Linked DNA regions of Homo sapiens: region 1 is linked to region 2. Evidence: fine-mapped expression QTL. A gene starts in region 2. The other region holds a variant in brackets. All regions are shown on one strand. Distances are from middle to middle.

Region 1 (8,259 bases), 35 kb before region 2:
CCTGGTATCCGTCCCGCTCCACTCTCAGTTCTGATTGGTGCCCACACCAGTCCCCACTGTTGAATATTTGGAGTGTCACCTCTCCCTACCCCACTGAATAAGAACCAGAAGGCAGCCTTGTTGCCCACATGCGGAAATTAAGACCTAGAGAGGGGGACGGGTGCGGTGGCTCATGCCTATAATCCCAGCACTTTGCGAGGTTGAGGCATGTGGATCACCTGAGGTCAGGAGTTCGAGCCCAGCCTGGCCAACATGGTGAAGCCCCATCTCTACTAAAAATACAAAATTAGCCGGGCGTGAGGACGCACACTTGTAGTTCCAGCTACTCGGGAAGCTGAGGTAGGAGAATTGCTTGAGCCTGGGAGGTGGAGGTTGCAGTGAGCTGAGATCACACCACTGCACTCCAGCCTGGGCAACAGAGAGAGACTCTGTCTCAAAAAAAAAAAAGACCTAGAGAGGGGCAGGGCTTGCAGTCAAGACCCTGTAGACAGTCAGGGACAGAGCTGGGGTCCTCTGTGCCCCATGCCAGCAGTGAGCACACAGTTGGGCTTGGTGGGGATGGGTGCTATGTAAAAATTTATTGAATCATCACAGGTCTTTCCTTTCCCCCTATCCAGCATCCCTCTCTACCTGCCAACATCCTGTATTAGAGAACTTGTGGCCGGAGGTGTGGCTGTGGAGAGCTGGCCGGGGAGGGACGCTGCTCAGCTGCTGCTCTGCTCCTGTCTCCTGTCCCCTCCCCCGGTCATGACAGAGACCCGTGAGCCAGCTGAGACTGGGGGCTACGCCAGCTTGGAAGAAGATGATGAAGACCTTTCCCCAGGTAAGGTGGCCTTAGAGGTGGTGGCGTCGGCTTGACTGTCATCCTGGCTTAGGGTTTGGCCCCCACTGGGAAATGTTGATGGGGAGTGGCTGCTTGTCTTGCTAGGGGTTCTATTCTGACTGAGACTGCTTGTCCTAGTAGGGGATCTCTTCCAGTCGGGACTTCTGGGGACTGTAGATTGACTGGGGTCGCTCTCCTTGCTAGAGGTTCTAGATTGGCTATGATTTCCTTCTTTGCTGGGGGTTCTAGATCGGCTATGAGCTTTCTCCTTGCTGGAGGCTCTAGGTCGACTGTAACCACTCTGCTTATTGGGGCTTCTAGATCGGCTGTGATCTCTCTCCTCGCTGGAGCTTCTAGATTGTCTGCGCTCTCTCTCCTTGCTGGGGCTTCTCCATCGTCTGCGATCTCTCTCTTTGCTGGGGCTTCTGGATTGTCTGTGCTCTCTCTCCTCGCTGGGGCTTCTAGATTGGCTGCGATCTCTCTCCTTGTTGGGGCTTCTAGATTGTCTGCGCTGTCTCTCCTTGCTGGGGCTTCTAGATCGTCTGTGATCTCTCTCTTTGCTGGAGCTTCTAGATTGTCTGCACTGTCTCTCCTTGCTGGGGCTTCTAGATCGTCTGTGATCTCTCTCTTTGCTGGGGCTTCCAAGTTGGCTGTGATCTCTTTCCTTGCTGGGGCTTCTAGATCGGCTGCGATCTCTCGCCTTGTTGGGACTTCTAGATCGGCTATGATCTCTTGCCTTGTTGGGACTTCTAGATCGGCTGCGATCTCTCGCCTTGTAGGGACTTCTAGATCGGCTGCAATCTCTCGCCTTGTTGGGACTTCTAGATCGGCTGCGATCTCTCGCCTTGTAGGGACTTCTAGATCGGCTGCGATCTCTCGCCTTGTTGGGACTTCTAGATCGGCTGTGATCTCTCTGCTTGTTGGGGCTTCCTGATTGACTGCGACCACTCTCCTTCCTGGGGCTGCTAGATCCCCTGTGATCTCTCTCTTTGCTGGAGCTTCTGGAATGGCTATGACTTCTTTCCTTGCTGGGGTTTCTAGACCAGTTGTGACTTCTTCCTCTTCTGGGGGTTCTAGATTGGTTTTGACTTTTCCCCTTGCTGTGGCTTCTAGACTGGCTGTGTCTTCCCATCTGGCTCAGAATTCCCTTCCGGGTGCGACTTCTTGCCCTGCTATGGTTTCTCTTCCAACTGTGACTTCTCACTCTGCTGTGCGTCCTCTTCTGACTGCCACTTCTTGACCTTCTGGGGCTTCTAGATTGGCTGTGACTTTGCGGCCTGCTGCGGGTGCTGGCCTGGTTATAACTCTTGACCCTGCTGGACATTTCAGTGGGGCTGTAACTCTTTTCCCTACTGGGGATGATCATCTGACCGTAGCTCTTCACCTTCCTTGATGAGGATGGAGATGGGTTGTCACTCTTCTCCTTGGAGGGAATTCCAGTCGGGGTTTGACACTTGGCTGTACTGGGAGTTACAGCCAGCTCGGAACTCCTCCCTATACCTGAGCCTCCTGGTGGGCGGTAACTCTTCTTGCTCAGATTTCTAGGCTGGCTGTCACTCCTTTCCCTGTTGCTGGTTCTAGGCCGGCCGTAACTCTTTCCCCGGCTCCCTTTTTGCTGTGAAGTGGGAGTTCTCACCCTGCTGGCCATGCCTGGTCTGGCACCATGAGTTCTTATCCTGCCAGGAGTGCTGGCCCTGCTGGGTGACCTCTTGGAGCTGCGGCTTCCCCTTCTGCCAGGTGTCCTACCCCGGCTGTGTGTGCCCCTCCGCTGGTGGCATCTCACGTCGCTGGCCTTGCTGGCTTTGCTGGTCCTGGTGTCGGTGCTCACCCTGCTGGGTGTTCTTGCTTTGCTGCGGACTCGGGACCTGCTGCTGGGCCGGTTAGAAGGGGCTCTTTTTGTACTGGTCGATTTGGTGGACTTGGAACTGCTTGGGCTCATGACTGAGTTACGGGATGTCGCTGGTTTGGTGGGCACTAAGGATCTGTTGGGTGTTGCTGATTTGGTGGACTTCAAGGAGGCAGGAGGCTTGGGATCCGCAGTGGGCATGGAGGATCCACTGGGTGCCAGAGACATACTGGGCTTTGAAGATCTCTTAGGTGAAGACATGGTGGGCGCAAAAGGGCTTGTGGTCCTGGAAGTCACAGTAGACATGAAACACCTGGTAGCCGTGGACGATGACCTGATTGCCTGTCACAGGCCAACTGTGTGAAGTAATAGTGGGCATTGAAGACTCTGGAGGGTGAGTGGTATGAAGTCAGAGGTGGGAGGAGAGAGGGGAGGGGTCCCAGCCTGAGGCTGGAGATATTTCCTCTGGTTTGCAGCCATTCAGCAGATGTCTTCTGAGGCTGACTCATGCCCAGCATTGCTGGGGACACAGAGATGGGGCAGACCCAGGCCCTGCCTTCAAGGAGCCCATAGTCAGTGGGTGGGGAGGGGGGCCACTGCCCAGAGTGGTCAGGGTGTGATGGAGAGCAGTGCAGGGGCCGGGGAGCCCATACGAGAGAGACACTGACCGCTTGGGGAGTCAGCGAGGACTTCACAGAGGAGGTGACATGAGCTTGGCTTTAAAAAGGAGCAGGAGTTTTGCCAGTAGAGAAAGAAAGGGTCAGGCTGGGCGCGGTGGCTCACACCTGTAATCCCAGCACTTTGGGAGGCTGAGGCAGGCAGATCACCTGAGGTCAGGAGTTCAAGACCAGCCTAACCAACAAGGTGAAACCCCATCTCTACCAAAAATATAAAAATTAGCCAGGTGTGATAGCACACGCTTGTAATCCCAGCTACTTGGGAGGCTGAGGTGGGAGGATCGCTTGAACCTTGGAGGCGGAGGTTGCAGTGAGCCAAGATCACGCCATTGCACGCCAGCCTGGGTGACAGCGAGACTCTCTCTCGAAAAAAAAAAAAATGAACGGGTCAACCAGGTGGGCGAGGAGCAGAGGCCAAGGCTTTGGGGAGGGAGATCAGGGTCTTGGGGCCACTATCATCCACTCACCCACACGTCCTCTGCTGCGGACCCCAAGATCATACCTGCCCTTGAGGAGTTCCCAGTCAGATAAGGGAGATACCCTGGGGGGCAGCTGACTGCAGTCAGCTTCTAGGGCAGTAACAGGAGGAGGTGCTGGGGCAGGGGAAGCTGGAGAGAGACCTGGCTGGGAGCCTGGGGCTTCAGGGTGGTGGCTTCACAGAGGACAGAGTTTGTGCTGGGTCTTGAAGGATGAGTAGGGGGTCACCAGGTGGATAGAGTGGGGAACAGCCCATACCAAGGCCTCAGGAAACGATTGTTAAATGGCAGGAACTAGTAGGAGAGAGCTGCAGGGACGGATGTTCAGAAGGAAAGAGTTATAACCTGTTCTGGGCTGGTGATGCTGGGGACCCAGCAGGAGGGTGGTAAAAAAAGTGACTGGCTGCCTGGGATGAGGAGGTCTGGGACGGCCTCACCAAAGAGGAAGGCCTCCCACTGGGTCCTAAAGGATGGTGGGAAAAACTAGGGCAGGACATTCCCACCAGAGGGAGGAACAGTGTGTGTGAAGCCTCAGAAAAGGTTTGTCAAATTCCATGCAGAGATATCCATGCCATAAATATGTCATAAGTACTTTCTTTGCACAAAGGAAGTGTTTTAGATGCTGGGGCCACAGCAGTGAACCAGACAAAGTCCCAGCTCTCGGGGACAGGCAGTAAACAAACACACAAGTAAATGTTGAATGCAGTGAGTCAGAAGATGGAGAAAAATGAGCCGGCTGCGGTGGCTCATACCTATAATCCCAGCACTTTGGGAGGCTGAGATGAGTGGATCACTTGAGGTCAGGAGTTTGAGACCAGCCTGGCCAACAAGGTGAAACCCCGTCTCTACTAAAAATACAAAAATTACCTGGGCATGCTGGTGCGCCCCTGTAATCCCAGTTACTTGAGAGGCTGAGGCAGAAGAATTGCCTGAACCCAGGAGGCGGAGTTTCCAGTGAGCTGAGATCACGCCACTGCACTCCAGCCTGGATGACAGAGCGAGACTCTATCTCAAAAGAAGATGGAGAAAAATCAAGCAGAGTAAGGGGC[G/C]TAGGGAGTGCTGGGGAGTGGCCAGGGCGTCACTGAGAAGGTGACACTTGAGAAGAGACATGGAATGGAGAGTGACATCGGCAGAAAGGGTGGCAAAGACCCTGAGGCAGGTATGGGCCTGGGGTGTTGGAAGGTGAGGAGCCTGGTATGAAGAGCCTGTGGCCACTGTGATGACAGGAGCAAGGGCGGAGCACAGGGTGCAGTAGCAGGATCCTCTGGGTTCTGGGAGAAACTGAGGAATGGGGCTGGGATGGATACAAGGTGAGGCTTTTGGCAGGCTCCTACCACCAAGGCCGAAGAAGCTGGTACTTCCCACACCGTGGTCACAGGGACCCCATCCCCAACCATTACTCTGTGTGTGCGCCCCCATAATGGCAGCTGATGTCGCCCTTTTCCGTATATCAACTATAAATTTTTCCCCTTTTCTTTTTTTTTTTTGGGAACGGAGTCTTGCTCTGTCACCCAGGCTGGAGTGCAGTGGTTCAATATTGGCTCATCGCAACCTCCGCCTCCCGGGTTCGAGCAATTCTCCTGCCTCAGAGTCCTGAGTAGCTGGGACTATAGGCACCCACCACCCCACACTTGGCTAAATTTTGTATTTTTAGTAGAGACGGGGTTTCACCATGTTGCCCAGAGTGGGTCATGAACTCCTGAGTTCAGGCAATCCGCCCACCTCAGCCTCCCAAAGTGCTAGATTACAGGCCTTTTTCTTTAAACCTAAACTTGTCCTAGGCCTGTCCTTGATAACTGTGAAATCACAGTAATATATCTTACCTATAAATAAATGTTTTAATTCACCTAACTCTCTCTCTCTCTCTCTCCATGGCCACAGATATAAAAGTACATCTGTGTGTATGCATGTGTTTTAATTTGCACAAATACCTTTTCAAATGGTTGTCTCCCTAAAATGATCCAGTGTCAGCCATGGCCCAGGTTCAGCTTTTCCTGCCAGAGCTGTGTAACCACAGGGGAGTGAGTCGTCTAGCCTCCCTGTGCCTCAGTTTCCACATCCATCAACTGGGGATAGTAATAGTACCACCCTCAAAGGGTTGTTGAGGATTTAGTGAGTTAATGTATAAGAACAGGGCTCCTACAATAGCAAGGATGCTGTTGTTACTGGTGGGTTTTTACTACTCCGGCTTTGTCCTTCCTAAATGCCTCCCACCCCACCTCCCCATGGAGTTTTTGTTTTCTTTTGCAATCAATCGAAAGAATCAAATAATTTTTTTTTTTTTTTTTTGCTTTTTTCTAAGACAGCAGAGTCTTGCTCTGTCACCCAGGCTGGAGTGCAGTTGTGTGATCTCGGCTCACTGCAACCTCCGCCTCCTGGGTTGAAGCAGTTCTCCTGCCTCAGCCTCCCGAGTAGCTGGGATTACAGGCGCCCGCCACCACACCCAGCTAATTTTTGTATTTTTAGTAGAGACGAGGTTTCACCATGTTGGCCAGGCTTGTCTTGAACTCCTGACCTCATGATCTGCCCACCTTGGCCTCCCAAAGTGCTAGGATTACAGGAGTAATCTACCGCGCCCGGCCAAAAAAATTCTTTTTAAGTGGTGAGGTCTCACTCTGTCACCCAGGCTGGAAGGGAGTGGCGCAATCATGGCTCAAATGCAGCCTGGAACTCCTCGGCTCAAGTGATCCTCCCGCCTCAGCCTCCCGAGAAGCTGGTACTACAGGTAATGCATCACCAGGCCTGGCTAATTTTTTAATTTTTTGTAGAGACGGAGTCTTGCTATATTGCCCAGGCTGGTCTCAAACTTCTGGGCTCAAGTGATCTTCCCACCTTGGCCACCCAAAAGTGCTGGGATTACAGGCATAAGCCACTGTGCCCAGTCCTGTCCCATGCAGTTCTTGGAAGACATTCATTTGCTTGACACAAAGATACAGGGAATCTACTGGGTGCCAGTCTTGTTCTGTGCCATGGGGACTCATCTGTGGGGAAGGGAAGGGTAGTGTCTAGGCTATCCTTGTCATACTATGGCAAGTCTGAATGTGGGGATTCAGGGAGGGGACAGCTTGGCCTAGCCCTCTTTCCTCTGATACCACTGTCTTCCCCTGTCTGTCCCCCTCCAGGCCCCGAGCATTCCTCTGATTCAGAATACACTCTCTCAGAGCCGGACTCCGAAGAGGAAGAAGATGAGGAGGAGGAGGAAGAGGAGACCACTGACGATCCTGAATATGATCCTGGCTACAAGGTGAAGCAGCGCCTTGGCGGGGGCCGTGGTGGCCCATCCCGCCGGGCCCCCCGTGCAGCCCAGCCCCCGGCCCAGCCTTGCCAGCTCTGTGGCCGCTCACCCCTTGGGGAGGCCCCACCGGGAACCCCACCCTGCCGGCTCTGCTGCCCTGCTACAGCCCCCCAGGAAGCACCAGCCCCTGAAGGCAGGGCCCTCGGGGAGGAAGAGGAGGAACCACCTCGGGCTGGGGAGGGCCGACCAGCTGGGCGGGAGGAGGAGGAGGAAGAGGAGGAGGAGGGAACCTACCACTGTACGGAATGTGAGGATTCCTTCGACAACCTGGGGGAGCTGCACGGGCACTTCATGCTGCATGCCCGGGGTGAGGTGTAGGCAGAGCCCCCATACGGGGAGCTTGGCAGAAGGGGTGGGGTGGGAGGAGGGGGCTGAGGAAATTGGGGTTGTGACAGTGGTCATGGGGGATGGGGTACTGCCGGTCTGTGTTGTCTTAGAAGTAGATGTGTGATGGCCAGAATAAAAGCCAAAATCTGTATCTGTGTGTGTTGGTTCAGAGTGTGTGTGTGTGTGTGTGTATTCCCGCCCGTGTGTGTGTTTGTGTGTGTGTGTGTGTGTGTGTATTCCCCCTGGGCTCCTTCTTGGGGAACCTTGGGGTCTTTTGGGAAAGATAACATTTACTGCGTGCTTGTATTCGATGAGGTTTCCATGTATTTACTTACAGACCCCATAATGTAAAGGCTCTAATAATAGAATTTTGTTTCTCACTCACAAAATGGTGCTGGGTGAGTCATTTGGGGACCCAGGCCATCCCTTAAGCCTGTTGTCTCCCCCATGGTCCAGACTGGGTGGCCATAGCCTGGGTCCTGCTGGCAGAAGAGGACAGGATGCCTGGTGAGGTGCACGTGTTGTCTTACAAGCCCTGGCCTGCCAGGGGCACACACTGCTTCCATTGACACGCCTTTGCTGAGAAATTAGATATGTGGCCGCAGCTAACTGCAAAAACAACCTGGGAGAAGCAGTCTAGCCAAGCGCCCAGAAAGCAGAAAACAGTTCATGGAGGACAGCTAGGGCTTTCTGCCACATAGCCTAGGAACTTCCACAAAGAGGACTTTAATTATAATCACAGCTACGCTTTCTCAGCGCTTCCTGGGTATCTGGTGCCAGTCCAAGGGCTTTATATATATTGACTCATAGAAATG
Region 2 (8,321 bases):
TGGGTTCTTCCAGTCTCCCCGGCCTTCCCCCTCCCCACCATGTGGTGGTCTCTTCCTACCCAATTCACAGGTTCCCCCTTCACTCCATCGAGGGGTCCCCCAGCTCTCTCTCCTCCCTTCCCGAGGGTGCGTTTCCTCTTCTATGCCGGGATGGGGGTTCTCTTCAAGCCTTTCAGGTCCTTCCTTAACCCACCAACGCTGGCTGGGTGATTTTCGATCTCACTTTCCTTTCACAGCCTCTCCCGACCAGTGTTTTCTCCCTGCACCCAAAGTCGCCTTTATTCCCTCACCAGGCCTCATCATCTCTCCTCCTGTGATTGAAAGTCTCTTTCAGCTTTGTATAAACATCTCTGTCCCCCACTGGTCTCTTCCATTGCTCCCTTTCTCCTCCATCATTTTTCAGGTCTGGGGTGGTCTCTTTCATTTAACTCATGCCCATCTTCTCTCTTCCATTTTATTTTCTGAGACAGGTTTCCCTCTGTTGCCCAGGCTGGAGTGCAGCGGTGTGCACTTAGCTCGCTGCAGCCTCGATCTCCTAAGCTCAAGTGATCCTCCTGCCTCAGCCTCCCAAGTGGCTGGGACTACAGGCATGTGCCACCATGCGCAACTATTTTTTTTTTTTTTTTTCTGTAGAGATGGATCTCTTTTTGTTGTCCAGGCTGGTCTCAAACTCCTGGGCTCAAACGATCCTCCCACCTCAACCTCCCAAAGTGCTGGGATTACAGGCGTGAACCACCGTGCCCGGCCTCCCTTTCATTTTACTCATCCACATCTCCCCCTCCCTGTCTCTGCTTCTCCTCTTTACGATGATTTGCTCAGCCAGGCACGGTAGCTCATGCCTGTAATCCCAGCACTTTGGGAGGTCGAGGCGGGAGAATCACTTGAGGTCAGGAGTTAGAGACCAGCCTGGCCAACATGGCGAAACCCCGTCTCTACTAAAAAATACAAAAATTAGCCAGGTGTGGTGGCACGCACCTGTAATTCCAGCTACTCGGGAGGCTGAGGCAGGAGAATCGCTTGAACCTGGGAAGTGGAGGTTGCAGTGAGCAGAGATCGCGCCATTGCACTCCATCCTGGGTGACAGAGCGAGACTCTGTCTCAAAAAAGAAAAAAAATGATTTGCTCCATACTTCAAGGTTATCATCCATCTCCTGTTTGGGGTGATCCCTTTTCTGTCTCTTCCACCACTCCAACACTCCACCATCATCTCTCCTCCCTCGGTCAGGAATGACCTCTTCCCTGATTACACTTACACTTTCCCACCCCAGCCCAGCCTCTTCCTTCTCTATCCACTCCCCACCATTTCCACCTCCTGCCAGTTAGATTCTTCCCCTCTCACTATTTCTCTGCCCCCCACAGTGTCTTTCCTTACCCCTCTTCTGCCTAAGAAAGTCTATTAACTCTCACCCCTCCCACATTTTCCTTCTCTTTAGGACAGTGTCATTTTCAGAATTCTGTGACAATAATGATTTCTATCACACCACTTATTTCTGTTCCCTCCATCTCATGATGGTCTTTCCCTCTTTCCTGCTCTCCACTGATTTCTTCCCACGCTCCCGTCTTGAGAACCATGATGATCCCCCCTCAGCATGGTAGTCTCTTCCACCCTGAAGGTACACCCCACCTCCCCACCAGGTCCCAGGCCACATCCTCTTACTTGAAGTAGCCTTCCCGACCAGGAGCACACATGTGTCCTTGTCACTGCTGCAGGTCTTCATTTGGCCATGGCACCTGCTCCCCGCCGCCGTACATATTTCGCAGTGTAGTGGGCACCCTGCAGTGTAGACAGAGGGCGAGGCTGTAGTCATGGGTGGTGTGGTCTTCGGACCACGACTTTGACTTAGGACTTTTGTGTCCTGAGAGAGGAGGGACCAGCAGCTCCCTGGTTTTTCATGGGCGGGATGTTGACCACTGCCCAAGGAACTGTCCAGAGTTGGACGAAGAAGCAGTGGTGATGCCAGCAAAGCTGCTTCCAGGGGCGGGAAGCGACTCCACCATGAAGCCTGTTTGCCTAATTACATGGCTGGGGATTTTGGATGCCAGGGTCCGCTGAGAAAGCTCAGGGGCAGGGAGGGGTCGTGATGGAGGTTTCCATGGACTTTTGTGAAACTTCAGGTCCAGCTGGTTCTTGAATGTGGGATTCTCCTCCTTGAAGGTGCCATGTAGGTCTTGTAGACAGCAGGAGCTCAGGCAGGGGGCCCTGAGGCTAGGGTCTGCATCCCAGGTCAAGGAGGGAGAGTGAGGACCAGGAGGGCAGAGGACTTGAACTTCTTGGTTCTGAGAGAGGGGACAGCTAGGGGCCCAGAAACCTGGGTCCTGGGGAAAGTGAGGCTTACTTGGACTCCTGTGTGCAGGGGAGGAGGGGGCTGGGGCCTGAACTTCTTAGTCTAAGGAGAAAGGAAATCTCTCTACCTCTTTTAAAAAAATATATCATATGATATTAATGTATTTTTTTTGAGATGGAGTTTTGCTCTGTCACCCAGGCTGGGGAGTGCAGTGGCACGATCTTGGCTCACTGCAACCTTTGCCTCCCAGTTTCAAGCAATCCTCTCACCTCAGCCTCCCAAGTAGCTAGGATTACAGGCGCCCACCACCAAGCTCAGCTAACTTTTTTTGTATTTTTAGTAAAGACGGGGTTTCACCATGTTGGCCAGGCTGGTCTTGAACTCCTGACCTCAAGTGATCCACCTGCCTCGGCCTCTTAAAGTGCTGGGGTTACAGGCATGAGCCACCGCACCTGGCCTTCTCCCTCTTTTTTTTTTTTTAATTATATTTTTAAAGATTTCCCTTTCCAGCCATGCTCTCATCTGATTTCCTAGAATTGAGATGTGTTTGGGATCCTTCCTGGAGGATGGAGGATTCAGAGCCCACCAAGCCCCTCTCTCAGGGATCCAATCACAGGAGCTTTTCTTCTCTGGGACCCCCAGGCTTTCTCTTCCTTTACCCTTGGCCTCTTCCATGAATCTGAATTTCCAGAATGCCTCCCCGTTCACCTTGAGGACTTGCTGAAGGCTCTTTCTCTCTCTATATCTCTCTCTCTCTCAATCTGGGACCTCTCTCTTCCTGAGGTCCCAGAGACAGTTCAGGTCCCTTGTCACTTACCAAGACCCAGGAGGGTGCAGAGCAACACAAAGGCCAGCAGAAAGGTCTCTGGTCTCCTGGAGAGCCTCATGGTGTGTGTATCAGCAGTACCTGGTCCCCAGCTTTTATAGGAAGCTGAGGAGGGGTGGGTCTGGACCCACATTCACCCTACGGGGAGAAATAGCTGAGGTCAGAACCCAGGGCAGTCCTCTGTGGCCTCCGGGTTGGGAAGGCAGAACCAGAATCCAAAAGTGACCTGGGCATCTTGTGCCCAGCCCCCCACCTCCATGGAGACCCCAGGAGTCTGGGCTTCCATCCCCCTCTTCTATTAGAACCCAGAAAGTCACCACCCTGTTTTCTCACCTTCCCACGGCCCATTGTTGTTTGTTTGTTTGCTTGAAGACCAAGACGGAGTTGGGCCTCTTGATTCCCAGTGGCTGCAAGAACTGGGATTCCCTCTCCTTCTCTCTCTTCCCCTCTCCTCCCAAGGAAGCACCCAGTGTGGGTAGGGCCCCACCTTGGAGCACCCAGCATGTCCAGGCTGGTCCTGCGGGTGCGGGGTGCCTTGTCTCCCTTCCCCTCTCTTCATGTGCTCGGCTCACACTCCTTGTGTGTTTGGGCTGTCTCCAGCTGCGACCCCACCCAGGGCTGCACCCTTGGGTCTCCAAGGCACCGAATGAACAGAGGGATGTCTGTCGGCAGTCATAGGCGGGCGTAGTAAAAGACAGATGCCCACAGTCCACATATTGGGAAACTGAGGCTTTTGTGGAAGAACTCCAGGATAGGGGTGTGTGTGTGTGTGTGTGGTGGGGGTTGGGCACATGCTTTGTGTTATATTTAGGACGCAGAACCCTTCTCTTTTGGCCTCAGGCATAAGGCTGAAAGAGATCTGCTAATTTTTTTCGCGCGTGCGCGCGCGCGTATGTATGTATATGTGCGTGTGTGTGTGTGTGGCAAGGGGACAGAGAGAAGAGTGCAGCCGCCTGAGCCATTTGAAGAGATCCTGTTGCGTAGAATCCAGGTTCCCTACGAAACTACGAAAATTCACTCAGATTTGCTGTCCTAGCCCAGCGCAGTCGCTCACGCCTGTAGTTCCAGCACTTTGAGAGGCCGAGGCAGGTGGATCGCTTGAGCTGAGGAGTTCGAGACCAGTCTGGGCAACATGGCAAGACCCGCCGCCCTCTCACCCCATGTCTCCACAAAAAATACAAAAATTAGCCGAATGTGGTGGCGCGTGCGTGTAATCCCAGCTACTTAGGAGGCTGAAGTGGGAGGATCCCTTGGCCCCAGGAGACAGGGGTTGCAGAAAGCCGAGATCGTGCCACTGCACTCCATCCTGGGTGAGAGAGCAAGACCCTGTCTCAACAAAAAATTTTTAAAAAATAAAATAAATAATAATACAGCAAAAAGATTTGCTTTCTCGGCTTCAGTGTGGGCGGTAACTCCATCGTGCAATGAGAAAGGCGAATTTCTTCCAGACACCAATCCCGGAGGTCGCTTCTGTTGCTAGGCTCCCAGAAAGCAGGGTTCGGACGTCATTGGGAGGCGAGGCTAGAGCGGGGTTGTGTGTGGCGGAGGGAGGCGGGGCTGGAGGAAACGCTCGTTGCTAAGGAACGCAGCGCTCTTCCCGCTCTGGAGAGGCGCGACTGGGCTTGCGCAGTGTCGACGCCGGCGCCGGCGCGCCGGGGTTTGAAAGGCCCGAGCCTCGCGCGCTTGCGCACTTTAGCCAGCGCAGGGCGCACCCCGCCCCCTCCCACTCTCCCTGCCCCTCGGACCCCATACTCTACCTCATCCTTCTGGCCAGGCGAAGCCCACGACGTTGACATGCCGGAGATCCGCCTCCGCCATGTCGTGTCCTGCAGCAGCCAGGACTCGGTGAGGGACCTGCATGGGGGAGGTTGGAAGACGTGAGGGAATTAATGAGGATAGCTCTTAAAAGAGCTTTTGGGGTTCTCTTGGAAGTCTAAGGAGAGTCATGGGGGGATTTCCAGGAGGCTAAAAGTGAATTGTGGAGAGATGTTGAATTAGGGACGTTCCGGCGTCTAGGGAACTTCCGGAGAGAAAAGGAGGAATAGGGAAGCTTTCTTGGAGAGCCCATAGGTGAACTTCCACGGGAAAGTGTTGTAGGGGAAACTCCAGGCAGAGTGTCGGGGGATTAACGGGAGAGCTTAAATCTGGGGGTCGTAGAGGCCTTGGGAGGACTCAAAGGAATCATCTGAGAGCTGGAGGCCTAGCTGTCATCTCTGTGCCCTAATTCTCCTCTCCCACTGTTGTTTCCAGACTCACTGTGCAGAAAATCTTCTCAAGGCAGACACTTACCGAAAATGGCGGGCAGCCAAGGCAGGCGAGAAGACCATCTCTGTGGTCCTACAGGTGATCCTGCCACCCCACCTCCTCCTCACTAGGAGTCTGGAGTCCGGGGTTCCAGATTCTGCTCCTGAGCCAACTGGCAGTGGGTTTAGTCACTTTCTTTGCTGGGCCTCAGCTTCCTTACTCGGAAAATGGGCAGCATAATCCCTGTGCCCCTCAGCAGAGAGGAAAGGAGACCCAAGGATTAAGTCCAGGATGACCACAGGAATCAGTGTGTGGTCCTGGGCAGGTGGCATCTACTTTCTGGGTTCCAGTTTCCTCAGCTGGAACAAAATGAATCATTGCCACGTACTCTGCCTCCTGCAGCCAGTGGGCTCAGGGCTGGAAGGTGTCCAGGAAGGTCGTCTAAGCCAATCAACTCCACTTTAAAGAAGGGGAAACTGGCCGGATGCCGTGGCTCATGCCTGTAAACCCAGCACTTTCAGAGCCTGAGATGGGAGGATTGCTTGAGCTCAGGAGTTCCAGACCAGCCTGGGCAACATATCAAGACCCTGTCTCTATTTTTATTAAAATAAATAATTTTTTTTAAAGAATAATAGCCAGGTATGGTGGTTCACACCTGTAATCCCATCACTTTGGGAGGCCGAAGCTGGAGTATTGCATGAGCCCAGGAGTTTGAGACCAGCCTGGGCAATACAGTAAGATGTCATCTCTACCAAAATTTTATAGATTAGCTGAGTATGGTGGTGTGCACCTGCAATCCCAGCTACTGGCGAGTCTGAGGTGAGAGAATTGCTTGAGCCCAGGAGATGGAGGCTGCAGTGAGCTGAGATTGTGCCACTGCACTCCAGCCTGGGCACCAGAGTGAGACCCCCAAAATATAAAAAATAAAATAATAATAATGAGAGCTGGCATTATTCAACGTTACCTGTCAGTCGCTGCTCTACACACCTCACTCACATGGATTAGCTCATTGAGTCCTCATAAAAAACCCCAAGAGGCAGGCTCTGTTATCCCCACTTTTACAGATGAGGAAACTGAGGCCCAAAGAAGTTATACAATTTGCCTGACAGTCAATCTTTTATTTATCTGTTGAGACAGAGTCTCACTCTGTTCCCAGGCTGTAGTGCAGTGGCATGATCTTGGCTTGGCTCACTGCAGCCTCTACCTCCTGGGCTCAAGCGATCCTCCCACCTCAGCCTCCTGAGTAGCTGGGACTGCAGGTGTGCACCACCATGCCTGGCTAGTTTTTTTTGTATTTTTTTAGAGATGGGGTTTCCACCATGTTGCCAGGCTGGTCTCAAACTCCTGGGCTCAAGCGTTCCTCCTGCTTCAGCCTCCCAAAGTGCTCGGATGACAGGCATGAACCATTGTTCCTGGCCTGGGGGCTGCTTTATGACTATAAGGAGCAGAACACTCTGTGGATAGTGCTAGGGTGACGGAAAAATTAACCTTTTGTGAATGGGCAGTCATTCAGCAAATATCCACTCCTCTCCCTCCCACTGGAGGGGGAGTATATTTCCCTGCTCCATTGATGAGTTTGACCATATGATTTACTTAATGGAATTTCAGCACATCTAACTTCAGCAAGGGCCTTAAATGCACTTGGCTTTTGTGCTCCCATAATATGCCATGAGAACATTTGCCAGGTTACTGCTAATCCCAGAAAACTGTGGAATCTCATGGAAGAGACCTGAATCCTCCCAAACTGCAGCCAAAGCAGCCATCCCACAAATTCTTATAAGAATGCTTGTTGGTATAAGTCTCAGTTTTCATGTTGGGAGGTCGAGGTGGGTGAATCGCTTGAACCCAGGAGTTTGAGACCAGCCTGGGTAACATGGGGAAACCCTATCTCTACGAAAAATTATAAAAAATAGCTGGGCTTGGTGGCGTATGCCTGTAGTCCCAGCTACCAGGGAGGCTGAGCGGGGAGGATTGATTGAGCCCATAAGGTTGAAGCTGCAGTGAACTGTGATGGTTTCACTGCACTCCGGCCTGTGAGACAGAGTGAGACTGTATCTCAAAAAAAAAAAAAAAAAAAAAAAGAAAAGATCTCAGTTTTAGGATGATTTGTTACACAGCATTATTACAGTGTAAGTTAATACAACTTGGTTGTTTTAAACCACTGAGATTAGGGACTCCTTTGTTACTGTAACATCATCTGGTCCACCCCAATTGATGTCAGTGTTTAGTGCCTGTCAACTAATGGCCTCCACTTCCCAGGTTCAAATGATTCTCATGCCTCAGCCTTCTGAGTAGTTGGAATTTACATGCCTGGCTAATTTTTGTATTTATAATAGAGACCGAGTTTTGCCATGTTGGCTAGGCTGGTCTTGAACTCCTGACCTCAGGAGTTCAAGGCAAATGAGCACCAAATGCTAATTTAAGTGATCCACCCACCTTGGCCTCCCAAAATGTTGGGATTACAGGCATGAGCCACTGCACCTGACCTCAGTCTTTTAAACTGTGATAGATACAGATTGCTGACAGTTTTAGTCTTGAGATCTAGATTCAAGCCCCCAGCTCTTCCTCTTAATCGGTGACCTCAAGAAAATTGTTTCATTTCTCTAACCTGTTTTCTCATGTGTCCATTGGGAATAATGACATCCAAGCCCGGAGTTGTGAAAATTCGGTGACATAATGTCTGCACAAGTGCTCTGTCAACATGTAGGTGTTTGTGTAGAGGGAGGGATTTGTGTTTTTATTACTTAGTGGGTGATGATTCCACTGGGCTCTCTTATGATCAAGTGACTCCAGGGAAATCACATTTCATTCTGTTACCCCAGTTGCTGTGGAAACAGAGTGACTGGAGGCAGAAGAGACAGAACCTGTCTCTGGCCTGGGAGAGACTGAGGGAGTATTGCAGCGGTCACCAACATGGTAAACCCCAGAGGGAGCAGCTTGGGGAGGTGATGTGTTTCAGTTGGGAT

The links. PIP is the estimated chance that this variant, and not a neighbour inherited with it, causes the effect.
Region 1: its variant is fine-mapped to the expression of PINLYP in thyroid (GTEx, PIP 0.98).

The regions. Positions count from the first base shown.
Region 1 is chr19:43,606,793-43,615,051 of GRCh38, reverse strand. ZNF428 (zinc finger protein 428) reads left to right here. Exons shown (of 3, transcript NM_182498.4): 2 at 618-823; 3 at 6,945-7,828. The coding sequence starts at 748. The coding sequence ends at 7,435. SRRM5 (serine/arginine repetitive matrix 5) reads right to left here and starts at 2,964. Exons shown (of 1, transcript NM_001145641.2): 1 at 554-2,964. The coding sequence starts at 2,930. The coding sequence ends at 783. The variant G/C (reference allele first, on the strand shown) is at 4,872.
Region 2 is chr19:43,572,043-43,580,363 of GRCh38, reverse strand. It overlaps PINLYP (phospholipase A2 inhibitor and LY6/PLAUR domain containing), which reads right to left and starts at 4,563. Exons shown (of 6, transcript NM_001193621.3): 1 at 3,445-4,563; 2 at 3,103-3,249; 3 at 1,658-1,774. The coding sequence starts at 3,172. It overlaps XRCC1 (X-ray repair cross complementing 1), which reads left to right and starts at 4,837. Exons shown (of 17, transcript NM_006297.3): 1 at 4,837-4,956; 2 at 5,362-5,454. The coding sequence starts at 4,906. RefSeq lists enhancers at 90-149, 3,411-3,936, 3,937-4,463, 4,464-4,623 and a silencer at 4,724-4,883.